Linked DNA regions of Homo sapiens: regions 1, 3, 4 and 5 are each linked to region 2. Evidence: fine-mapped expression QTL. A gene starts in region 2. Each other region holds a variant in brackets. All regions are shown on one strand. Distances are from middle to middle. Region 1 has its middle 280 kb from the start of LINC01644. Region 2 holds the start of TTC38 (tetratricopeptide repeat domain 38). Region 3 overlaps CELSR1 (cadherin EGF LAG seven-pass G-type receptor 1). Region 4 holds the start of GTSE1 (G2 and S-phase expressed 1). Region 5 overlaps TTC38 (tetratricopeptide repeat domain 38).

Evidence for each region. PIP is the estimated chance that this variant, and not a neighbour inherited with it, causes the effect.
Region 1: its variant is fine-mapped to the expression of TTC38 in pancreas (GTEx, PIP 0.91).
Region 3: its variant is fine-mapped to the expression of TTC38 in substantia nigra (GTEx, PIP 0.91).
Region 4: its variant is fine-mapped to the expression of TTC38 in whole blood (INTERVAL, PIP 0.95).
Region 5: its variant is fine-mapped to the expression of TTC38 in whole blood (INTERVAL, PIP above 0.99).

What each region holds. Positions count from the first base shown.
Region 1 is chr22:47,202,922-47,208,021 of GRCh38, reverse strand. No RefSeq gene overlaps it. Among named protein-coding and RNA genes, the nearest start is that of LINC01644, 280 kb to the left of the region's middle. The variant C/T (reference allele first, on the strand shown) is at 2,939.
Region 2 is chr22:46,265,215-46,270,314 of GRCh38, reverse strand. TTC38 (tetratricopeptide repeat domain 38) reads right to left here and starts at 2,307. Exons shown (of 14, transcript NM_017931.4): 1 at 2,243-2,307; 2 at 1,724-1,801. The coding sequence starts at 2,275. RefSeq lists silencers at 2,031-2,240, 2,251-2,410.
Region 3 is chr22:46,414,595-46,419,694 of GRCh38, reverse strand. All of the region lies in intron 5 of CELSR1 (cadherin EGF LAG seven-pass G-type receptor 1), which reads left to right. Among named protein-coding and RNA genes, the nearest start is that of TRMU, 81 kb to the right of the region's middle. The variant C/T (reference allele first, on the strand shown) is at 2,458.
Region 4 is chr22:46,294,966-46,300,065 of GRCh38, reverse strand. GTSE1 (G2 and S-phase expressed 1) reads right to left here and starts at 3,196. Exons shown (of 12, transcript NM_016426.7): 1 at 3,135-3,196; 2 at 2,587-2,686. The coding sequence starts at 2,665. GTSE1-DT (GTSE1 divergent transcript) reads left to right here and starts at 3,406. Exons shown (of 1, transcript NR_024009.1): 1 at 3,406-4,923. RefSeq lists an enhancer at 2,679-2,788 and a silencer at 2,939-3,138. The variant T/G (reference allele first, on the strand shown) is at 2,212.
Region 5 is chr22:46,287,179-46,292,278 of GRCh38, reverse strand. It overlaps TTC38 (tetratricopeptide repeat domain 38), which reads right to left. Exons shown (of 14, transcript NM_017931.4): 11 at 3,691-3,856; 12 at 2,718-2,877; 13 at 2,380-2,453. Among named protein-coding and RNA genes, the nearest start is that of GTSE1-DT, 6.9 kb to the left of the region's middle. The variant T/C (reference allele first, on the strand shown) is at 3,045.

The sequences.
Region 1 (5,100 bases), 940 kb before region 2:
AGGCAGACCTGGGTTCAAACGCCAGCCCCACTACTTACCAGCTGTGCAAGCTGGAGAGGTTTCTTCCCCTCTCTGAGCCCCAGTCGTGTCCTCTGAGAATGATGGTAATGAAAACCTCTGCTCCCTGTGGGCTGCTGGGAAGATGGTGAGATCCTTTTGATGCATTTAGCCCAGTGCCTGGCACAAAGAAAAGGCTTAATAAAAGTTCTCAACTCTTAGTATTTGTGTCAGTTATCTCCTGCTGCATAACAAAGTACTCCAAAATTTAGCAGTTTAAAACAACAGCAAACCTTTATCGACTTGCAGTTTCTGTGGGTCAGGATCCAGGGTAAGTTCGGGTGGGTGGCCCTGGCTCAGGGTCTCTCCAGAGGCTGCGTCATGACGTTGGCTGGGGCTGCCATCATCTGAGGGTTTGACTGGGGCTGAAGCCTCTGCCTCCAATATGCGCTGCTTGGGGGAGGCCACAGTTCCTCACAGGATGACTTCCACAGGCTGCTCGAAGGTCCCACACCACAGCAGCAGGAGCCCTAGAGCAAGTGATCAAGAGAGGACAGAGGGGAAGCCACAGTGCCTTTTCTGACCTGGCCTGGGAAGTTCCTCACTGCCACTTCTTCCATATTCTATGTGTGAAGAGAGTAGGAAATTAGCCTCTGTTTCTTGGAGGGAGGAATGGCAAAAGACTATGGTGGACGTTTTTTAAATCCACCACGTCATTGCTGGAAGAATGAGACCAGACCTCAAGGGAAGAAAACAAGGAAATTGTCTAGAAAAGCCCATGAAAGAGGCAGAAAATAACTGAAAGTGACTCGCAATTTTCTTTGCTACTTCCAGCCAAGAGCATTGTTCTCACCAGCCCAGCTGACTGACCCTTTAGGTGACAGAACCACATCACCCCAAACTTTTTCCCGGGCACAAAAGCATTCTGAGCTACATCCATGTGTGGGTCTTTGATACTAGAACCAGCACTTCCAAACCACCCGGAGTCCAACACCCATGATGCAGGGCAGGCAGGCCCACAATTGGGGCTTAGTCTGGGAGGGTCCTTGGCTTTACCCAGGAAAGAATTCAAGGGCGAGCTGGTGGTGTTAGACAGCAGTCTTTATTGAAGTGGTACCAGAGGTGCTGCTCCTTGCAGAGCAGGGCTATCCCATGGGCAGTGTGCCCAGAGCGGCAGTTCAAAGGCAGTGCTGCACCCACTTTTTTTTTTTTTTTTTTTTTTTTTTGTGAGACAGAGTCTTGCTCTGTCACCCAGGCTGAAGTGCAGCGGCACAATCTCGGCTCACTGCAACCTCCACCTCCCAGGTCCAAGCAATTCTCCTGCCTCAGCCTCCCGAGTAACTGGGATTACAGGCGCCCACCACCATGCCTGGCTAAGTTTTGTATTTTTACTAGAGACGGGGTTTCACCATGTTGGCCAGGCTGGTCTCGAATTCCCGACCTTAAGGTGATTTGCCTGCCTTGGCTTCCCAAAGTGCTGGGATTACAGGCGTGAGCCACTGTGCCTGGCCTGGACTCATATTTATACCCACTTTTAATTACATGTAAATTGAGGGGCACTTTATGCAGAAATTTCCAGGAAAAGGATGATAACTTCTGGGCTGTTGCCATGGAAAGGGGTGGTAACTTCCAGGAGTTGCCATGGCAATGGTAAACTGACATGGCACCGGTGGGTGTGTCTTATAGGAGGTGCTTTAGGCTCTTCCCTGTTTTAGCTAGTCTTCAATCTGGTCCAGAGTCCAAGCCCTGCCTCCTGCCTCCCGCCCTGGAGGGCACTTTCCTGCCACCTCTCCATTTTCCATTAAATAATGGAATAATTCAGTAATTCCATTGAATAATGGAAAATGATGAAAAGGACTGGAATATCCAGGCTGGAGTATCTTCCCAGGATTCTGAGGGAGGGACTGAAACCAAGCGAATTATAACATCTCCCCCCAAGAGTCACTCAGGGATCCTCCTGCAACAGGAGATGGTCACATTCCTTTAACTGTGGCCTCCAGCCTTGGGAGGTGTTATACGCCCATTTCACGGATGGAAAAATAGAGGCTCCAAAAGGCCTGGCAAGTTGTCCAAAGCCACACAACGTGGAGTGCAAGAGCCTGGCCGAGTTCGAGAGGCCCTGCCACCAGCCTGGGTTTCCACACCACCCACGTCCATCCCAGGCTTGCACAAACCACATCTGCCATGACCAGATGATGTCCACGGTAGGGACGGAGCCCGTGAATGCACAAACCCACACCAGGGGCTAAGCGCAGCTGTCCTGGGGGACCACAGCAGCCATGCTCTCCTCCCCGTCCCCTGCCTGCCATTGCACCACCGCCCACCACCTTGCAGACACTGCTGCAGAGGCCTGCCCCTGCCTAGAGATGGGCCATGGAGAGGGCACCTGGGCTGTGAGCACATTAGAGACAGGTGCCCACACCAAAACCCTGCAGAGCTCAGAGGGTCCCTGATCAGGGGAAGGCAGGGTCACGTCTGCCTTCCAGAAGTGTCCCTGAAGTGCCCAGGGAGGGAAAGTAGCCTCAGCAGGGAGGCTGGGGAAGGAGGGTGACATGGGGGAGCCTGGGAGGGAGGGTGACATCGGGGAGCCGGGGAGGAATGAAGAGGGGAAAGGACAAGTGGCCCTGCCACACAGGACCAAGCAGTGCGAGGAGACCCACAGGGCGGGGGCCCAGCCTTCAAGAGAGCCCAACAAAAGAACGGGGTGTGTGTTTGGGCCGAATGGGGCGAGTACCAGAGAGGGCTGCTCCAGGCTTGGGGGCTCCGTGATGTGTGAGCTTGGAGGTGGCCAGGAACGGAGGCCCCGTCAGGATGTCTCAGCTTCTGGGGGTGGCCGTGGGCTGAACAGGAAAGTATTTTGAGCGTCCCCACAACCCGGCAATGTTCACCAGCCCACTGGACACTCTGACCCCACCCCAGGCAGGCATCCCTCATCCCTCAC[C/T]TGTGGCTCCCACTAGTAAGGAGGACCCAGCCACTCCCTCCACCTCTGCTCTCTCTCCGTCACCCCACATCTAACCCTGAGAGATCCCCTGCTCTCTCCGTCACCCCACATCTAACCCTGAGAGATCCCCTGCTCTCTCTAGCTCACCCCACATCTAACCCTGAGAGATCACCTGCTCTCTCTCCGTCACCCCACATCTAACCCTGACCGATCACCTGCTCTCTCTCCGTAAACCCACATCTAACCTGCCACCTGAGGGCTCGCTGCTCTAGTGTCCAGCCCGAGTTCCCAAGTCAAAGAATCCCATCAGTCTAAGAACACACAGTGAACACCCGCTGTGTGTCCAGCATCCTTCCAGGCCCTGAGATACGACAGTGAACAAAAGGGGCCAACACTTCCGAGGAGAACACCCTGAGCAAACAAGCAGCATGGCTGGCAGCAATGGGCACACAGGGGACAAAGCTGCAGGGCGGAGGGATGGGGAGAACAGGCTGGGGTCCACTGAGATGGGCCAAGCACAGAGGAACTCCAAAAAGGCAACGCTGGGGCAAAGAGCTGACAAGACAAAGGGGCGAGCCCTGTGTGCCTGTGGGGAGGAGGGTCGCAGGCGGAGGGCAGAGTGAAGGCCGGGACCGGAGGGTCAGGTGTGGCTGAGAAGTGGCAGGATGGCCAGTGGGCCACTATTGTGAAGGGAAGCAGAGACACGGGATAGAATGGGGTGGAAACTGGTGAGGCGGCCTGTTTGGATGCTGATGGGAGTGGCCCAGGAGAGGAAGAAATATTCCTGATGCAGGACAGAGAGGGGGACCACAGCTGGAAAGGAGTCCCGGAATAATGCCAAAGAAAAATGATTCGCTGGACGCTTGTTAAAGACAGCAAGGCGGATGCCACTCCAGCTCCTGCTGTAGGGGAGACTCGTGCACAGAGCTGAGCTCAACTCCCACTAGAGCAATGCCGTCGGGGCACACAGCCAGCAAGCGGAGCGGGGAGACGGGAGCGTGCAGAGTGAGGAGCTGACCTCACCAGATATCAAGGCTGGGGGATAAGGGACTTCATCTGATTTCAGAGTGTGTAGATTCTTCATAAGTGGGCTTAGGGGGGTCTTTGCTGAAACAGGTTCAGCCCACCAAGGGCAAAGCTTCTTCAGAGGAGGACTCCGAGGAGGCCACTCCAGCACGGGCAACGAGGGCATCCTTGTCACTAGGTGAGAAGAGACAGGCTTCTGTGCGGGAGGGAAGGGGCCGGCCTTGCTGGAGTGGAGCCAATTCAGGGCAAGGTGGAGACCCCTGAGTACACAGGTGGGCTGAGGAGCACGTTCATTGTTGCTGGCCCTGGGGACACAGCAGCTGCCTCACTACCATGGAGACAGGGATGCACCCGTGGACGGCTGCCCAACCAGGCCTTGCCTAAGTCCCATCTGCCATGGCCAAAAGGCAGCATCTCAAGGTCACCAAATGGGCCTCTCCTTCCAGGGAAACAGGTTTCTCTCTTCACTGTCATTCCGGGGGTTCACGCAGATGCTGGCCTGGCAAATGCTAGGGGCCTGCAGGCTGACACCTTCCACATGTTTCATGTAAGAGGCTCCCCCAGCTCTGTCCTCCACGGTTTCATGGCTTTTATCAGCACCAGGATGAGAGTCTTCCAAGGATGCTGGGCTGTGTCCGCCTTGAGACAGGACCCCATACGGACATCTGTGGGCCATGAGCAGGGAAATGAAGGGAAGAGGGTGCCAGCTGCCTTCCCTGCCAGTCCCAAACATCTACCCTGAAATCAGACACAGTGTATGGATGTTGCTACCCCTGCCAGAACCCTGCATGTGGCACCCAGAAACTCCGATGTGAACTTCATGCAGTTCATTAGAATCAGGCCCTACCACTGCAGCCCTTCTTGGGAGCATTTTCATGAAAGAAAGCCATTCCCCAGCTTCCCAAATAACAACCAAGCACGGCCCCCACGCTGGAGGCTGTGGGTAAAGGGAGTCAGCTCATTGGCCCCCTTTTGGGGCGTTAAGGGCACGAGTTCCTGAAGTTCCTGCCTTGCTAACTGGAGGTCCCTGTCTCCAGGGTATTTACCGCAGGTCTCCAAAACCTGAGCCTGGCTGACCGGGACGCCTACCCCCGGGACCATCTCACTACTGTCACGCTGCTCATCACAGCTGCACT
Region 2 (5,100 bases):
CAGGCTCAAGCAATCCCCCTGCCTCAGCCTCCCAAATAGCTGAGACTATAAGCTACGCAAGCATTTTGACAAGATACAGGAGGGTTGGCACAGAGATTTAAAGAAGCCAAGTTCTAACACAGGACAGCACAGAGACACCAATACACGGGACAAAATATACCCAGGCTGGGAGGATGAGCTGCCACTGATTGGGGATGTGGTGTGTAACAAACTGAGTACTAGGGGCCGGGCACAGTGGCTCACGCCTGTAATCCCAGCACTTTGAGAGGCCAAGGCAGGGGAATCACAAGGTCAGGAGTTTGTGACCATCCTGACCAACATGGTGAAACCCCGTCTCTACTAAAGATACAAAAAATCAGCTGGGTATGATGGTGCGTGCCTATAATCCCAGCTACTTCGGAGGCTGAGGCAGGGCAATCGCTTGAACCCGAGAGGCAGAGTTTGCAGTGAGTCAAGACTGCGCCATTGCACTCCAGCCTGGGTGACAGGGCAAGACTCCGTCTCAAACAAAAAACAAATCGAGTACTCTACAGAGGCCGGCGAGATACAGGAAGGGCAAGTGAGCCAGGTCAAACACAAAATAAACAAACAACTCAGATGCCCACAGCAGAGTCCCTTGGCAGGGCAGGCTGGGAACAGGAGAGGCACCCATGGCGCAGCTCACAGCATTCCATCAGTCCTCTCTTGTTCAGCCCGTAGGCTTCTAAGAGCTACCTGAGTCCTCCTGTTATGTGGATGAAGTCAGTATGCAGGGGCCTCACCACCCACGCCAAGGTCAGCTTAGGTTTCTATCAGTGCAGTTAGGCCCAGGTTCATCCTGGTTCTGCCTGTAATTCATGGACAACCTTCAAGTCAAGTAGGTTCAACTCTGAGCCTCAGTTTCCCCACTTGTCAAGGAAGCTAGTTGGATCTTACTTCTGAGACTTCTCCTAGTTCTAAAACTATAGGACCCTTCATTGGTAGAGAAATGACTGGTAATGTGGCAGAAGGTCTTGGCACAGCCTAGGTGAAGGCAGTATACTCACAGATTCATCCCAGGACAGGATCCCACGTCCTAAGCAGCCGAGCCCTGCATCAGACCCTCAGCAGGCCACAATGGGAGGCCCGGGGAGGCCAGCATCCTCAAAAAACATCCCCACTGCACCCACCGCTGTCCACCCACCACTCAGAGTCCTGGGGAAGAAGGGAGAGTGCAGAGGCCCTTTTAGGACGCTGTGGGGGGGGGGCAGAGATATGTCCCCACCCTCCCACGTCCTCCAGTACAAAGTGCACAGATGTGCTGCCATCTATTGCTAAGGTCATGGCGCAATTTAAAAAGCTTTCCCCATGGCCGGGCGCGGTGGCTCACGCCTGTAATCCCAGCACTTTGGGAGGCCGAGGCGGGCGGATCACGAGGTCAGGAGATCGAGACCATCCTGGCTAACACGGTGAAACCCCGTCTCTACTAAAAAATACAAAAAAAATTAGTCGAGGGCAGTGGCGGGCGCCTGTAGTCCCAGCTACTCGGGAGGCTGAGGGACGAGAATGGCGTGAACCCGGGAGGCAAAGCTTGCAGTGAGCCGAAATAGCGCCACTGCACTCCAGCCTGGGCGACAGAGCGAGACTCCGCCTCAAAAACAAAACAAAACAAAACAAAACAAAACAAAAAAACAGCTTTCCCCAATTAAAAAACCTTCCCCTAGACCTCCACAGAAGGGGCCGCGGCCTCTCTCGGCAGGCATACCTGGGTCAGCGTGGCATCGAACAGCTTGCAGGCTTCGTTGCTTGTGGTGGAGAGCGGGAGCCTCGCATCCTTCCAGGCCTACAGACGGCAAGAAGGGAATAGCAGTGCCTTCTCTCCAGGAGCCCTTCAAACTTCAACACACACACGTCTCCTGGCCCCTCTGACCTCCACCTTCCTCATCTGTAAAATGGGCTCAGGCTCCCAGTCCTGGGCCGGTTCCAAGGAGCCCCTTACCTTTGCGGGCTTCCCTGCGTCCCCAGCCATGCCCAGTGAGCTACGTTTTTTAGGAGGTCTTGGGGTCTCCCGAGTACCCTGACAGGCGTCCCTTATTTCCCTCGGTGGGGACTCTACAAGAAGGGCCTCGGGTCCCTTCCAGGCGTTGCCGCGGACGCGCCCGTGCGCCCAGGGCTCACCCCACGCCCCGCGCCCGGGCCATGTCTCCCGTTATTCCGCCAGCACCGGGCCACCCCCAGGACCCGGGGCCCGAGGGGGACCTGGTTGGGGGCAGCCTCCGTGTACCTGGCAGTCGCGCAGAGGCGAGGCTGCGGCCATGTTGCGCCGGGTCGGAGTCCACCGCGAGCTCTGGGCACCCGGGCCTTCCTGGGAGTGGGCGGGGCGGTCGCGGAAAGGGGCGGGGCGGGGCGGCCGCGCTCTCCCGCTCGCTCACTGGTGGGTTTCGGACAGACTGGCCCTGGTCCAGGATCCGGGCCCGCCCCAGAGGCCCGACCGGACAACTCTGCAACGCGACGGGTCCCTTGGGAGCAGGGAGCTCCGGGACAGCGGTCACTTTCAAGTTTATGTCGTTGCGGTCGGCAGCTACCCGCGCGCGCACGGCACACACTCACTTGGCGTTCGGGGCCGGCTTCACTGGGTCGTCCCGCCGCCTCCATCCTCCCTTCTCAAGGATTTGCAGCGGAAAAATCGCTCTGTCTCCTGCAGTAGCGGCTTCTCCCTCTGGACTGGCCCGGTCTGGCCCGGCCTGAACTCTGCCATCAGCCACACACCAGCCCCAGTCCAATGGGCTCCCCTAGTTTAATTTGCCCCCGCCCCAGGGTGCACGAATCAAGGGCGTAGAACCAAGTGCACGGGCAGATCTGGCCTTTATTTAAAATGCTATTTTGTTCATCATGGACTTTTTGCATTAGTTTTGATTTTTGAAATATTGCACTGAAGTATTATTTGTTTTATGTGAGAGCTGTAAAGATAAAACTCTTAGAAGAAAACAGAAGTAAATCTTCATGGCCTTGGATTTAGCAATGGATTCTTAGATGTAACACCAAAAGGACAAGCAACAACAACAAAATAGATAAGTTGGACTTCGTCAAAATTAAAAACTTTTCTGAATCAAAGGACACTACTCAGGAAACTGAAAAGATTAACACAATGGGAAAAAACATTTGTAAATCATATATTGGGTAAGAGTCTAGAATCCAGAATACATAAAGAAATCTTGGCCGGGCACAGCAGCTCATGTCTGTAATCCCAGCCCTTTGGGAGGCTGAGTCAGGTGGATCACCTGAGGTCAGGAGTTCAAGACCAGCCTGGCCAACATGGTGAAACCTTATCTCTATTAAAAGTACAAAAATAGCCAGGCGTGGTGGTGCATGCCTGTAATCCCAACTACTTGGGTGGCTGAGGCAGGAGAATCGCTTGAACCCGGGAAGTGGAGGTTGGAGTAAGCCAAGATTGTGCCACTGCACTCCAACCTGGGCAACAGAGCCAGACTCTGTCTCAAAAAAAAAGAATTCTTACAACTCAACAGCGAAATGACAAACAGCCCAAATTTAAAGTGGGCAAAGAATTTGAGGTGACAGTTCTCCAAAGAAGACACACCTTTCCTACAGCGTTTTCAAGGTTCATTCATACTGAAGGAAGAGGCAGACACAAAAGGTAACACTTGTATTAGTGCATTTACATGCATGTCCAGAATACGCAAACATAGAGACAGAAAGAAGATTGGTGGTGACCAGGGACTGAGGGGATAGGGATGATAAGTCACTGAAGCCTTGAACTCCTGGCTCCAGCAATCCTCCCACCTCAGCCTCCCATAAATGGTTACTTTTATGTGAACTTTACCTCAATAAAAGAGAATTTGTCTTGATTATTGAGTTTTTGGTGCCCCTCCACCCTTAAATTTTGCACTTGAGCTGAGTACTAATATGGACTAATACAGTAAATTGGTACCATTAGAGTGGGGTGTTGCCAAAAATATACCTGAAAATGTGGAAGCAACTTTGGAACTGGGTAACAGGCAGAGGTTGGAACAGTTTGGAGGGCTCAGAAGACAGGAGTATGTGGGAAATTTTGGAACTTCCCAGATACTTGTTGAATGGCTTTGCCCAAAATGCTGATAGTGATATGGACAATAAGGTACAGGCTGAGGTGGTCTCAGATGGGGATGAGGAACTGGAGCAAAGGTGATGCTTGTTATGTTTTAGCAAAGAGACTGGCAGCATTTTGCCCCTGCCCTAGAGATTTGTGGGACTTTGAACTTGAAAGAGATGATTTAGGGTATCTGGCAGAAGAAATTTCTAAGCAGCAAAGCATTCAAGAAGTGACTTGGATGCTGTTAAAAGCATTCGGTTTTAAAAGGGAAACAGAGCATAAAAGTTTGAAAAATTTGCAGACCGAAAATGTGATAGAAAATTCCATTTTCTGAGGAGAATTCAAACCAGCTGCAGAAATTTGTATAAATAACAAGCAGCCAAATGTTAATCCCCAAGACAATGGGGAAAAGGTCTCCAGGGCATGTCAGACGTCTTCATGGCAGCCCCTCCCATCACAGGCCTGGAGGCCCAGGAGGAAAAAGTGGTTTTGTGGGCTGGGCCCAGGGTCCCCAAGCTGTGTGCAGCCTAGGGATTTGGTGCCCTGTGTCCCAGCTGCTCCAGCTGTGGCTGAAAAAGGCCAATGTAGAGCTCGGGCTGTGGCTTCAGAGATTGCAAGCCCCAAGCCTTGGCAGCTTCCATGTGGTGTTGAGCCTGCAGTTGCACAGAAGTCAAGAATTGAGGTTTGGGAACCTCTGCCTAGATTTCAGAAGATATATGGCAACACCTGGATGCCAGGCAGAAGTTTACTGTAGGGGGAAGGCTCTCATGGAGAACCTGTGCTAGGGCAGTGTGGAAGGGAAATGTAGGGTTAGAGCCCCCACACAGAGTCCCTACTGGGGCACCGCCTAGTGGAGCTGTGAGAAGAGGGCCACCATCCTCCAGACCCTAGAATGGTAGATTCACCAACAGCTTGCACCATGAGTCTAGAAAAGCTGCAGACACTCAACACCAGCCCACGAAGGCAACCAGGAGGGAGGCTGTACCCTGCAAAGCCACAGGGGCGGAGCTGCCCAAGACCATAGGAACCCACCTCTTGCATCAGCATGAGCT
Region 3 (5,100 bases), 150 kb before region 2:
CATTTTTGGTAAGCTTTTTTGCTTGCTCAGAAAAGTCATTTTCGAGGGAACTGTAGCCCACCTGCCATCCTTCCTGAAGTTTTCTCCTGTTTTTCCCGGGACACTCAGGCTACTGTGTTGTGGGGGCTGAGCTCAGAGGCCCCATCCCAGGCACTCTGTCCCGGTGCCCGTGTGGAGGAGGCAGGCCCCGGGAGGCTGCAGCTCGGAAGTGTGCGTTCCTCCTTGTCCCGCTTGTCAGGATTTCTCTAGCTGGGAGTAGCATTAGGATTGAGATGCCTCCCACCCATAGAGGAACATGAGTGAGCTTCTTGTTGAGTGCTTGAGGAGGGTCCCTCAGGTTGTACCAAGCAACTTTTTGCCTATAAAATCCCCAAGAGAAGGAACGTGTTGCTTTCCAAGAAGGCGCTGTATCTCACTGCATTTTGGCCCTTCATTTGTCATTGGCAAGAAGACCCCCCTCTGAGCAAATCCCCATATAATTCCCAGGCTCCCAAAACACCTGGGGGAGTAGCCTGGCCGCAGAGGTGACCTGGTCCCGATGGCTGAGCCCCAAAGGAGCAGGGCTGAGATGGCCCTGGCTTCCTCCCATGGAACTGGGGGCTTTGGTCCAGGGTCTGGCTCAGTGGGGGCTGGCACGGTGCCCTGCTGGATCATTTCCAGAACAAAATTAACTACCACGGGGATCATGGAGCTCTGTAGGAGGAGCTTATCTCCGTCCAGTGCTGAACACGCATGCCCAGGGGACTCCTGCCTCCGGACCCACGGTTCTTGTGTTTCCAAATGTACTGTATACGTCCATCAGGAAAGCACAGAGCTCCTCACTTTTGTCTTTGGCCAGAATCATCGGGGAAACGGGTTAGACCCCCTTGCCTGAGAAATAAAAGGCTTTGTGTGATTTCTTTAAGAATCTCTAGGTGACCGGTTGGTTCTGACCTTTGTTGAAAACTTTTCTAATGCTCCCACAATAAGCCTAATAGCACCGTGCATTACTTTCTTGGATAGTTGAATAAATGGAGGAAATGGCGGGCCAGTGCCCGAACTCCAAGCTGCAGGTGGCTTTGCGTCTTAGCTCCTGGAGAAGAGCCTGCGGGTTCAGCGGAGAGGCTAATTGCACGAGTTGCTTACTTGCTGCTTTTTTCTTTAAAGATGTAAAAATCAACTTTATGATTTTATGTTATATTTTATTTTAATTTATTTATTTATTTATTCTGAGGCGGAATCTTGCTCTGTCGCCCAGGCTGGAGTGTAGTTGTACAATCTCGGCCCACTGCAACCTCCGTCTCCCGGGTTCAAGCGATTTTCCACCTCAGCCACCCAAGTAGCTGGGATTACAGGCCCCCACCACCATGCCTGGCTAATTTTTTTTGTATTTTTTCAGTAGAGATGGGGTTTCACCTTGTTGGCCAGGCTGGTCGCAAACTCCTGACTGCAAGTGATCCGCCCACCTCGGCCTCCCAAAGTGCTGGGATTACAGGCGTGAGCCACTGCGTTCAGCCCCTGTATTATGTTATTTTAATATAGGGAAGTATTAAAACAGCAAAACTTGAGAAAACCACTTGCATGTTATTTTGCTTTTCTTCACATCTTTTCAAGAAGTAACAATAGCAGGCATGGCTGCAAGCACTTCACACATGTCATTCATGTCGTCCCACGAGGAAGATGCTATTTTTACCCCCAGTTGTACAGCCAAGTCCTGGCATGCAGGGAAGTCATGTGACTTTCCCAAGTAGGGGCAGGATATGGACCCTTGGCTTTAAGGAGGTGATGTCCATTGGATGCTGTGGACACTGCTGTCCTGTGAGCCCCCCGCCGGCCTTGGGCCCGCCCAGCTGGACTCTGAGTTGAGAATGAGGATGATAGTAATATCAGCCACGCCAGCTCAGACACTGCACAGTTTCAGATCCGTCCTTTCATTTCATTCCCAAACAGCCCTAGAGATAGCAGCTATGCACTTACCCCCTTTCTAGAAGAGTCTGCCTAGGCTCATAGAGTATGTCTTCTGCCCCAGGTCCCTGGCAGGTGAGGGATTCAGGAGCACCTGTCCCCCTCAGCCAGAGTTGGGCAGAGGAACTTGAGTTCCCCTTACAACCTGGGATAGTGTGGAGCTGCCCTCCCCACCCGGTGGCCCAGTGGCTCAGTTGGGCTTCCAGACGGTTTGCTGCTGACAGCCCTGGGGGAATACCGCACCCTTCGAGCCAGGTCATCAAAAGCAGCCGGCAGCCCCTGTGTAGAGGGTGGCTACCTGGCGGAACAGGGTCCTGTTACCTGCCTAGGGGTATTGGGACCACCAGGAAGTAGCAGCTCGGTCTGAGGTTTGCATTCTGGCAAAGTCCTGTCCGAGGCTCCTGGGAGGCCAGTTTGAATTCTGGAAGGCTGCGTGCATCTGCGTGAATTTGCTCCTCGTGACCCTTCCCACCACTTTCCCAAGCAGCTTCGGAGAACTGCAGTGGCTGCCTC[C/T]GAGGGAGAGCTTGTCGTCTCCATGCCAGAACTGGCACGGGGTCTTGCCCACATTTCCTGGGGCATTTGTCGGCCAGACAGGCCTGAACTTTGTCATCTTGAGAAATGACAGCATGGAACGTTCAGCGCTGCAGTTTGACTCTGTACAGACATTCCTGAGGTCCAGCCATCTGTGAATTCTTTGATATGAACGTTGGTTAATCATTTCTGACACAGAGCATGAATTCATTCATTTCCTAAGACGTGCCCCTCCCACCCCCCCACACCGCCTTCCCCTGCTACCTTCCCCAGCATTGAAACCGTACCCCCACCGGCCTCCCAATGCAGAATCGTCTGCAGCAGGTTAAAAGGCTGGAGAAATGTGAGCACTTCGTAAGGACCAAATGCTTTTGTGCGCACACAGAAACTCCCAGCACTGCGTAGAGCGGCTGAGTGGAAGCCAAGGAGGAGGGCCTGCACGCAGGGAAGAAAATACCTCGAAGGAAAATAAGAAGAGGCTGGACCCCGGGGATGACTCCTGGAGCAGGATTCCGGATCTGCACAGCTTAGCGCTTCTGGGCCACTCCTTGCAGTGCTCAGCGGCACTGTAGGTTTTTTCTCAGGTGGCTGCAGGAGTGAGCATGTGGCTTTTCCTTGCTGGCTCTGTTTCCGCCTGCCCCAGGGAGCCTGTGCTGGCCAGGGTTGCCCGCCGAGGGGTGTAGAGGTACCGTGGGCAGCCCCTGCTGTCTCCAGTCACTGTGTGCGCTGCCTGCCTTGCTCGGCCTGAGTGACCAGGTCCAGCTACTGAGCTTTATGTCCTGGAAGCGAGGCCTGGGAATTGCCTTTCCTGCAAGGGGTGTTGGTGCAGGGGTTGGGGGGGGTCCTCTGGGCCTGGCCGGCTGCTGCGCAGTACCCAGCTGAGCCCTGGAAGGGCAGGTGCCGGGGCGCTGGGGCCTCCACCGTGCTGGCCTTGGCCCATCCTGTGCCCGGCGCTTTCCAACACAAGAATTGAGAAAAAACTCAGACACAACCCTGTGGCCCCCTTCATTCCCACGCTGTCTTTTTCTTTTGTATAAATATGTGGCAAACTTTAAAAATTCCTCTTAGAAATGTGAGGAGGCGGTTCGTCTGTCTCATTCCTTATCCGCCCCCCTCTGCAACCTGTACCATTCATCGTCAGCTGTGACCCAGCCAAGCCACCAAGTGCTTTTCCTGGCTGGAAAACTCAGAGGCGGACACGCCACCCCACAGTCGGGAGCTGTTACCACCACGTAGTCTTTTCTCTGCCGCCGCCTCGTGCTCCACGCCGGCCTTTCAGCGGAGACGCACTTTGTCTTCCTTTGACAAAAATGGATGATCTGAGCCCAGATCACACACATCTGCTGCTGTTTTCACTTATCCCTATTCAAGCCGCCTGTGTAATTGTCCATGCGCCTCTCGACCCCTCCTGGAGAATGTTCACCTCTCTGACTGCGTTTTATCACTCATAGCCACCTGGCAGGAAGGCCAAATAATGCATTTTCTCTCCATGTCAGGGAAAAATTGGAAGGATCTTCCCGAAAGTTCTTCAGGTGGAGAGTGGCAGGGGGCTGGTGAGGGGGGATGCCCACCCAGGAATCTTTTTTTTTTTTTAATTTTTTCCTTATTGAGGTGAAGTTCACATAGCATAAAATTAAGCTTTAAAGGGGCTTCTAGTATATTCAGAGTATTGTACCACACCACTTCTATTGAGATCTAAAATGTTTTCATGCCATCAGTTAACCAATAGTAACTTTTTAAAAAATAATAAAATATTTTCATCACCCAGGCTGGATGGTACGGTGGCTCATGCCTGTAATCCCAGCACTTCGGGAGGCCGAGGCAGGTGGATCACTTGAGGTCAGGAGTTCGAGACCAGCCTGGCCATCATGGTGAAACCCCATCTCTACTAAAAATACAAAAATTAGCCAGGTGTGGTGATGGGCACCTGTAGTCCCAGCTACTTGGGAGGCTGAGGCAGGAGAATCGCTTGAACCTGGGAGGCGGAGGTTGCAGTGAGCCGAGATCATGCCACGGCACTCCAGCCTGGGTGACAGAGCGAGATTCCATCTCAAAAGAAGTATTTTCATCACCCCATACCATTAGCAGTCACCCCCCATCCTCCTCCCTGAGCTCCTGGCAACATCTGTCTGCTCTGTGTCTGTGGATGTGCCTGTCCTGGACATTGTGTAGGAATGGAGTCACGCGGTGCATGGCCTTTCGTGTCTGGCTGCTTTCACTGAGCGCGATGTGTTCCGGGACCCCCGCACCGTTGTGTGTCAGCGCTTCGTGCCTTTCGGTGGCTGCGATTCCGGTGCAGGGATGGGCCACAGTTTGCCCACTCATCTACTGATGGACATTTAGGTGGTTTCCACTTCTTGTGAGTTGTAAATAGCAACGCCGTCAACACTCATGAACTGGTTTTTGAGTTCCTGTTTTCAGTTCTTTTGGGTACACGCCTGGGGCTGGTGGTGCTGGGTCATGTAGTAGTTCTGCGTTTAATGCTTTGGGGACCCCCGTCTGTGCGTCTCAGGTCACCCACAGCACCGTGTCCATGCACTCCCTGCCTCCGTGACACTTGCTGGCCTCAACTGCAGAGTGGACGGTTAGCCTGCGCGTTAAACCCACACTCGCCGAGAGGCGGGA
Region 4 (5,100 bases), 30 kb before region 2:
TTCCGGAGGCCCAGGCGGGCAGATCACGAGGTCAGGAGATTGAGACCATCCTGGCTAACACAGTGAAACCCCATCTCTACTAAAAAAAAAAAAAAAAAAAAAAAAATTAGCTGGGCGTGGTGGCGGGCGCCTGTAGTCCCAGATACTCAGGAGGCTGAGGCAGGAGAATTGCTTGAACCCAAGAGGCGGAGGTTGCAGTAAGCCGAGATCACGCCACTGCACTCCAGCCTGGCCAACAGTGAGACTCTGTCTCAAAAAAAAAAAAGAAAAAGAAAAAAGAAAAGAAAAGAGCTTTATAATCTAACTTGTGTTTTTAAAAGGTGACGTTACTGTGTAGAAAGTGTATCCGAAAGGAAGCAGATAATATCCCCTGACATTACAAATGCACATATTAGCCAACGGGAAGTAGAAGCCGGTGAGACAGCGTGGCTGAGACCCAGACAGCAGCATGTGGATGGAGATGGAGAGTCTGTAGATGGATTCAGGATATCTTCTGAAGGTGGAGAAGACGTTAGCTGGTGATGGCATGAATGTAGGAGGTTCTCAGCTTGCACAGCTGGGTGAAATGGAGAAATAAAATGGGTGATGAGAAAGACAAAAAGAACAGGGTATGCAGATGCAGAGGGGGTATGCCAAGTTTGAGATGAGACGTGCATGTGAAGACGCCAAATAGGCAGGTGAATATACAAGCCCAGAGCTCGGAGGAGAGGCTGCGCTCAAGACAAAACGTGGGTGCCGCAGAGAGCAGATACGCTGCACAGCTATTGGAATGCTGACCGCCCTGAGGGCGAAAGCACAAAGCGGTCCCAGAGCAGGTCTTGGGGAAATCAGCCTCAGAAGACAGCAGAGGGGGAGCCCCCGACAGAGAAAAGATACACCAGCCAGAGAGGCAGGAGGAAAAAACCAAGAGCGTCTTGGACTCCAAGCAAGGGAAGTTTCCAGAAGGACGAATGTTACTGAAAAGCTGACTGGCGATAGAAAAGTGAAAAGAGATTCAGCAATGTGGAAGTCGTCAACGACTGATGAAAGCAGCTTGAATGGAGTGGTAAGGACAGAAGCCGGAATGGGAGGGATTGAGAGGCGGAAAAAAATGGCATAACAAGTGAGAAAGCTCTCAAAGTTTGGCTTGGAAGGAGAAACACAGCAATGGAGAGGCAACGGAGGAGACGTGGCGACAAGTGAGACAAGGGAACATTATCTGTATGTGGATGCGCATGATCCAGTAGTGGACAGGGGAAAAGTAAGGAAATGAAGTCAGGTCAACGGAAGTGGGGAAGGCCTCAAGAAGGAGCAGGGGGTGCAGTATGCACGTGGAAAGGACATATTTGAAAGGAAGGACATGACAGGAAGGAGGAGAGGGGTGCAGAGGCAAGCGCCTTGCTAGATATGAAGATGCAACATTGATTTGTAAAGTCTCCAGGACAGTTCCTGCAAAATGGAGGCATTGAGGATGCTTGGGGCCAGGCGCGGTGGTTCACACCTGTAATCCCAGTACTTTGGGAGGCCTAGGCAGGTGGATCACCTGAGGTCAGGAGTTTGAGACCAGCCTGGCCAACATGGTAAAACCCCATCTCTACTAAAAATACAAAAATCAGCCAGGTGTGGTGGCGGGTGCCTGTAATCCCAGCTACTCGGGAGGCTGAGGCAGGAGAATCGCTTGAACCCGAAAGGCAGAGGTTGCAGTGAGCCAAGATCATGCCACTGCACTCCAGCCTGGGAGACAGAGTGAGACTTGGTCTCAAAAAGAAAGGATCCTTGGGTAGTGTGAGAAAACTACCCAAGGGATGTCAAAATGCTTTGTGAGGCTGGGTGAGGTGGCTCACACCTATAATCCTAGCACTTTGGGAGGCCGAGGCAGGCAGATTGCCTGAGCTCAGGAGTTCGAGACCAGCCTGGGCAACATGGCAAAACCCCGTCTCTGTTAAAAATACAAAAATGAGCCAGGTGTGGCAGCGGGTGCCTGTAATCCCAGTTACTAGGGAGGCTGAGGCAGGAGAATCCCTTCAACTCAGGAGAGAGAGGTTGCAGTGAGTACAGATCACGCCTTTGCACTCCAGCCTGGGTGAGAGAGCGAGACTCCGTCAATAAATAAATAAATAAATAAATAAAAACGCTTTGAGAGAAAAAGAGGGTGTGGCCTGTAACTCATTCTGTGAAGCTGTACCCTCACCTTGATACCCAAACCAGTCAAAGACACAAGAAGAAAGGGGT[T/G]TGGGGCCAGGCTTACTCATTAACATGGTCTCAAAGATCCTAAATAAGTCTTAGCAAACAGAAACCAGCGACAAACAAAAAAGAAAACATCGAATTCAATACAATAAATATTTGAGAGCCCACAAAGTGTTAGGTGCTGTTCAGGGCATGGGAGCACTGCGGTAAATAAAACGGATGAGAATCCTGGCTGTGATGAAACTTAAAATGGGGAGGAGGTGAAAGAAAACCAGAAAACGAAGGCAGATGTCATGTGTTTCACAGGTGCAGAGTACAAGTCGAGCACTTGAGAAAGAATTTCTCAGGGAAACATTAAATCACCCTCCATCTCTACTGAACATCCTGAACAACAACAGCGCCGCAGCAGCAAGGACTTGCCTTCCTTCTTAGGGTCATCCATGTTCACGTCCCCTGCCCGGCAGGCTGAAGGCTCATCGCGGCCGCCGCCTCCTTCCATGGAGAGAGCTGTCAGAAGTCACTGCAGGGTGGAACGGGGCCAGAAAGTGAGTACGTGTCAGGGCCCAGGGCTCCGGCTTCCTTCAGCCCTCGGCTCACAGAGGCAGAGAGAGCTGAAGGCCGCGGCCAGGTCTGGGAGAGGCGGCGCGGGGGCCGCTCTGAAATGATCGCATCCCAGGGGACCCCAGGGCCCGAGTGCCGCCAGGCCGGGAGTCAGCCCGAACGCCATCAGACGAGATAACGGAATTCTCGGCTTCTGGGCCAGAGTGTTGGGGGCTCTGTTTGCCTGGGGGGCAGCCCTAGACCTCCCGGCATCCCCGACCACGGCGCGAGGGGCCTCAGTGACCCCTGCTCGAGCCCAGGCCCGGCTCCTGGCGGGGCGCGGCCCCTCCCCGTCCCGAAAACGGCGGGCACCGCGCCGCACCGGGCCCACCGGGCAAGCCTCGCCCCCGACCCTGACCCCACCTTACCCAAAGCGGCAGACGATGCAGGACGCGCCTCCGGCACGGATTTAAACGCGGCGCCGGGAGACGCGGGTTGCCGATTGGTCGGTTTGAAAAGGGCTCCGAGAGGCGGCGGGCTGGGTGCGTCCTGGGTATTGTAGTCAGGACGCTGGTAAGAAGCGTCCAGTGCGCATGCGCACTGCTTCAGCGCAGCGAATGGCTCCGCACAGCGCCAGGGATCACCCACCCGGAAGTCTGCCCGGCCTGGCCGCCAAGTGTCACTAGGTATCCGCGTCAAGCCGGAACCATGTATAGCAGCTCCTTGTGTGTAGGGAGAAAGTTAAAACTGCCATCTAAGGGTGTCGATGGGAAGACTAAAAGTAGGCTCACCCACCTGCTGTGAAGCAGCGCGCGCGAGCTGTTACTAACAGTAGTGAAAAGCCGGGATCCCTGCCCCCGAGGCACGCACTGGGGCGCCGGCTGACCCAGAGACCTGAGGGAGACTCATTGCCGGAGCTGCACAGCCTGTGGGGCTGGAGGGGAACCGTCGCCCTTGGCGGGCTTCCCCAACCGCCAAGGCCTGAGGACCGCCGAGGGCGTGGCGGGAGCCTGTCCTCGGTTTTACAGGCCGGCTGGGGAGCTGCGTTGGAGGAGAGAGCCAGGGGCTGGGGCCCGGTGATGGAGCCTGCCTTGGGGAGTGCATGTGTTGGAGAGAGGTGGGAAGCAGATAGGATAACCCTGACCTGAGCCATGGAGACGCAAGGACAGGACTGGTAGACGGGTCAGTGGGCAGCAACTTAAGACTGACCTCGCTTGAGCCTTTGCCTGCGAACGAGGTATAATACCCACCTCGGGGGCTTGAGGATCAAATGAGGGGCTCCACCCACGGCAAAGTGTCACTAAGCGGGATGGAGGAGGATGCAGGAAGAGGAGTCTGGGAGGACCCGCTCTGAAAAGGATGGAACTCGAGAGCACCATTTTCAGGGACGAAGATAAGCTGTTTATTTGGGGCAGGCTGTGGGGAGAGCTGTGCAGCAAACAGCCACCCGGGGCCCAGGGCAGAGGCCTTCCAGGCTGGCTCGGGCACTTCTGGGTCCCATGTCCCTGGTTTTGCATCATCCATACCAATCACTCCATGTTGCTATGTTCCTTCACCAGAAGACTGGGGGCTCAAAAAGGGCAGGGCAGCCCTCACTCACCAGTCTCCCCAGCCTCACCCAGCTCAGCACAGGGCACCAGGCAGGGGCTGAGAGTGCTGGGGTAGGTGGGTGTGGTCAAACAGCTTGGAAAGAGTTTGGCCTGCTCATTGCATTCCCCTCAGCTCATCCTGGGGATGTCTGCTCATGGGAGAATGGCAGAGGGATCCCCAACAGTCATTCCTGATACTCCTCTCCCTGTATCATGTCAGCACATAGTAGGTGTGGCCTATGTATGGCAGATTCATTTCTGCCCCCAATAGGATTTGCTGTAGTTTGGATGTGTGTCCCCTCAAAATCTCATGTTGAAATGTGATCCCAATGTTGGAAGTGGGGCCTGGTGGGAAGTAATTGGGTCGTGAGGGCAGATCCCTTATGAATGGTTCAGCACCATCCCCTTGGTGATGAGTTCTTGCTTAGTTCACACAAGATCTGGTTATTTAAGAGTCTAAGACCTCCCCTTCTCTCTTACTCCTGCTCTCACTATGTGATATACTGGCTCCCCATCACCTTATGTCATGATCTTAAGCTTCCTGAGGTTGCACCAGAAGCAGATGCCAGCACCATACTTCCTGAAAAGCCTGCAGAACTGTGAGCCAATTAAACCTCTTTATAAATTACCTAGCGTCAGGTATTTCTTCATAGCAATGCAAGAAGGCCTAATACAGAGTTTGACTTCATTTATTTATGCCTTCATTCACCAACTTTCACTGACAGCTACTCAGTGCAGGCCATGTGCCAGGTGATGCTGGGGACAGATGCTGTCCCTGACCTGGAGAGGTCATGGCAGGGGTGCA
Region 5 (5,100 bases), 22 kb before region 2:
CCAGGAGTTTGAGTTTACAGTGAACTGTGATCACACCACTGCATTCCAACCTGGATGACCGAGTGAGACCTTGCCTCTAAAAATATAAAAAAATTTAAAAAGAAAGAAGAAAGAAGAGACGTGAAAGAATTAGCACTCAAAGGAAAGGTCATGTGAGGACACAGCAAGAAAGTGGCTGTCCACAAGCCAGGAAGAGAGGCCTCAGCAGAAACTGAACCCAGCCAGGCCTTGTTCCTGGACATTCCAGCCTCCAGAACTGTGAGACAGTGCATGCCTACTGTGCAAGCCGCCCAGACTGTGGCACTTTTATTTTTTAATTTTTTGAGATAGAATCTCCCTCGGTCACTCAGGCTGGAGTGCAATGACGCGATCTCGGCTCACTGCAACCTCCACCTCCCAGGTTCAAGCGATTCTCCTGCCTCAGGCTCCCGACTAGCCGGGATTACAGGTACCCACCACCACGCCCGGCTAATTTTTTGTATTTTTAGTAGAGGCGGAGTTTCACCATATTAGCCAGGCTGGTCTTGAACTCCTGACCTCAGGTGATCCACCCGCCTTGGCCTCCGAAAGTGCTGGGATTACAGGCATGAGCCACCGTGCCCGGCCTGTCTGTGGCACTTTTAAAATAACAACCCAAACTGACTAAGACAGCCCCCAAACACCTGAAAACAGTGGTTCTAGAGGGCGTGGGTGGTGTGAAGGGGCTGGGGCCGGGAACTCATTGTGGGGGGCACCATGGCTGTGGGTGGAAGGTTTCCCACCTTGGGGGCTGGTGAGCTGTGCTGATGGCCCCATGGATGCTGCCTGGTAGCAGGACAGGACTTGGAGAGAAGGCCCCCTCCACGTCTCCTAATGCAGTCGGCTCCCTGTGCAGCCTGCTCTCCCCCTGCCCTCCCCCACTGGGCCCCGCAGAAGGCCACATCGGCACTGCCGCACTGCCCCACAGATGTCACCCCAGCTCCATCCTCAGCCCTCCTGTCCACACAGCCACTTTCCCCACCGCTGCTGCCAGAGGCACCAACTCCCACCCACACCACAGCCTGAGCTCCCCAGGGGGCTTGACCACCAAAGAAACACGCATGGTTTTGTCTACAGCCATGGAAGGGGAAAGCGGGGAGCATGCGTCCAAGACATTTTACAGTTCTAGGCGGTTCCAGTGCTGCCAGCCAGACCTGTTTCATGAGTACCACAGAACCTGTACAGCTCAGTTTGGGTAACCCTGCCTGGAGGGAGCTGCGCTGGTGCACCTGCGCCTAAACCACTGGGCTTGTCACCAGCCAAGGGCCTCCTGTGGACCCGGGCTGCCACCTGCTCTCACAGCACACCTTCCCCACCAGGCACCCCATGACTCCTCTATTCTTCCTTTCACTTATGTCTGAGGGTGGCAGGGACATGGGCAAGGAGAGGTGTCAAACTCGCCGCTCAGGCACACGGGCTACGCAGCTGCTGGCCAAGAGCTCAGCAGCCTAAGTGGAGGGAGGCAAGCTGGGCCATGGAAGCACCAAGGCTGCTGGCAATGGTGAGGGCTCTTTGGAGTTCCCCCAGCACTCTCATCTGCCAGCTATGCCACCCTCCTGACACTCGCCTGCCAGCCACACCACCCTCCTAACACTCACCCTCCAGCCACGCCACCCTAACACACCTTCCAGCCACGCCACCCTCCTAACACTCACCCTCCAGCCACGCCACCCTCCTAACACTCACCCTCCAGCCACACCACCCTCCTAACACCCTCCAGCCACGCTGCCCTAACACACTCACCCTCCAGCCATGCCACCCTAACACTCACCCTCCAGCCACGCCACCCTCCTACCAGCCCCATGCCTGGCCTGGCTAAACCCACTGTGGTTTCGGGTCTGCCCTCAGCTGCTGCTCCCTCAGTGCGAGTTTACGTGTCTGTGGGACTGATTGCTCCCTGTCGCTCCCCCGACTACAGATGGGCTCCTGGTAGCCAGTGACTGGTGTGCCTGCTCACTGCTCCCTCTCGGTACCCAGCACAGGCAGGCAGGTGAAATGAGCTGAGGTCTAACTGAGCATTAGGTGTCGGCCAGGTGCAAAAAAGGAGAAAGGGTGTTCCAAGCGTGCAAAGGCCCAGGAGCCTGAAAGAGCAGGACGTGTTTACGTACCCAGGTAGCTTAGCAAGGCTAAAAGGGAGTGGGCTGGGAAGGGTGGGAGGTTGGGCCTGGGGTGGGGCTGGCTCCACTTGGTCACACTGAGCCTGCTAACAAAGGAGAACCAAATTCCCCACAGCCTCCCGACCTCACAGCCTCAGAAGCAGGAGCATCTCGGGCCAAGGGTGGTGGGGCTTCCAGGCACTCCTGAGGTCTGCAGGGAGAGCCTGTGAAGGTCGGGAGTGCTGGGCAGGGGCCAGGAGCTCACCGGGCTACGTTCTTATGGACGCTGGAGGTGCAGTTTAAGGCCGCGTGAATCAGCAGCTGGTTGAAGACGTCTCTCTGAAATGTCAATCGGGCATGTGAGTCTCCTGTACCTCAGGATGGGGGAGGCGAGCCCCCGCCCACCGCGGGCTGCCTGCTCTCCAGGGAGACAGTGGTGTTGATGCCACACCCTCAACGACGAACTTACACGGCGGGAGTGTGAGAGACACGTTCACACCCACATTGTTGGCACCAACACCATGGGAGAAACTTGGGGGCTGCGGGGCGCCCAGACTCCCTGGCCCAGGCCCTAGGCACCCCAGCTGGCGGCCATCGGCTCACCTGGGCATTGCTCCCACCGAGCTGGACGATCCGGTAGCGGATGGGCAGGAGCAGCTCCAGGACGCGGTCAGGGTTCCCGTCCTCAGCCTCCACCAGGGCCTGGCACAGGGGCAGCCCCACGTCTCGGGCCAGGAGGTGCTGGCAGTTCTCCCCTGGGGATCTGCGAACCCAAGACGGTGCCCTCAGCTGCCTGCCCATCACAGAACATCCGGGAAGGGCAGAGCCATTTCTTCCTCAGCGAGGTGTCCCTGGTCCAGTGCCTGACACATGCCACACTGATGAGGTGAGGTGACAGGCGGGGCAGCCCATCGAGGGGACAGGACAGGG[T/C]ACTGAGCTCAGAGCTGGGTTGGAGTTCGCCCACTTCCAGCTACCTGGTCCCCCACCTTCCAGCCTCAGTTTGCTCATCTGTAAGCAGGCATAACAGTGCCAATCTAACAGAACCGTCAGGATTGCTGATAATACAGGCAAAGGCCTGGCACTGCAAGCCAAGGCAATCATCACCCCCGGAAGGGAATGGGCAGGGCAGCCCAGGTCCTCCAGGTCAGCCCTCACCAGCTCTTGCCAGGCATCGCCCTGATTTAGATGGGGAAACTGAGGTTCAGAGCACAGAAGCACCTCGTCCAGGACCTCAGGGCCTGTAAGCAGCAGGTGTCTCTGGCTTCAGGGCTTCACTGTGTCCTCTCCACGGGAGGCAGCCCTGTGACCCTGCGGATCTCATACCCACCCTGGGGATGGAGGCAGCTCTGTGTCTTGGGGCAACCAGTTGTACAGCTGTGGGTGTACACACCTTGGGGGTCTGCACCAGGGGATGCACATCTATAGGGGTGCACACCTGGGAGCTGCCTCCATGGGCATCCCCCCTGCTGCACTCACAGGCGGGGCAGGCACTGAACAGGTCTCAGCATGGCCCTAGCACCCCCTCACCCTCTCGGCAGGGTGAGGACCCCCACCCCGAGAAGGCCCCTCTGCATACTCGCTGGCGTCCCGCAGGGTGGTCAGCAGCTCCTGTGTGGTCTGGGGGTCGTGTGCACCCAGGGATGCCATCAGGAAGTGTGCGTCATTGAACAGCAGGATGTGGTCTCGGCTGTGCTTCCGGGCCACAGGCAGGACATCCTGCCACCGCTGGCCCACAGACACTCCTGAGGACATGGGGAGGAGACCCAGGGCCTGGAGTGAGGCTCTGGGGCATGTCCCGTGCAAGGGCCTCCCTCACGGCGCTTCCCTTGGAGGCCTTGATGACCCTGTCCCAGGTGAGAGGCCGGGGAGGTGGGCAGGGCCACGGGCAGCGTCTGGCCTTGTGCTTAGGCCTCTATCAGGACTGTCTAATTATAGAGGCCATAGACGCGTAAGTAGGAAGCACATTTTAAAAAGTGTCAAAGGTTATTAAACAAAGCCTCTGGCCGCTTTGACAAACCCTAGGCCTCTTGGATCCCCCGGCCTTCCCACACAACCCTTGGCTTCCCAATGGATCCCCCGACCTCCCCAAGGATCCCCCAGGCTCCCCACTTTTCTCTGGGTCTCCAGCCTCAGCCTGCCCTTCCCACAGGTGGGCTCCCTGGCTCCTGTGCCCCTCAGCCTGCTGTTGGCCCATCTGACCACATCAAGCCTGCCCTCCAGCCCCTTGTCCCGCAGCAGGCTGCTGGCTTCTATGTCCCGGTAGCTTTGGATGGTCTGCTTTCTCTGAGAGTAACTCTTTCCCTTGTCTCTGCCCAGCAAGCCCCACATATGCTTCAGTAGCTCACATTTCACCTCCACTAGGAAGCCTTCTGAATCTCTAGAAACAGCCTGCCATGCCCTCCCTCAGGTCCCTGAATTGCTCAGCCCTCATCGTACTGCTGACCCAGGGCCTAGCCCAGGCCTCTGTGGTTCCAGGGTGACTCTGCTGAGCCTGAGACAAGGGGAGAACCATCTGGCACCCCAGTGGTTGGCTAGAGCCCTCAAGAGCCCCCAGAGCTGTGGTTGGTCCCTCCAGGCTACCTGCAGAGCATGACAAGGTTGAGAAACCTGTCTACAATCCCAGGGAGTTGAGAAACTCTCTCATGTTTTAGGAAAGGAGGTGGCATCGAGACAGGTGGCCAGGTGCTACCAGTGCCCCGAAGGTTTGGCAGGCAGGCCAGCCATGGGAACAGCACAGCAGGTGCCGCCCTGGGTGCAGAGCTGGAGGCGTCCACATCGAGGAGCGGTGGGAACTGGAAGAAAGAGTAGTGTGGCCTGGACACCCTCTCCAGCTTTGGGCCAGCTGGGAGGCAGCTGCAGAACGGTACCCAAGGCAGTGGCCAGGCCTGCAGAGGGGTCTGGAGCGGCTCACCCATGAGCTCTTGCCCAACCCTGGGCCTAGGCCACAGCACCCTCTCCTCATGATGTGGGAGGAAGAGGCAGAAGC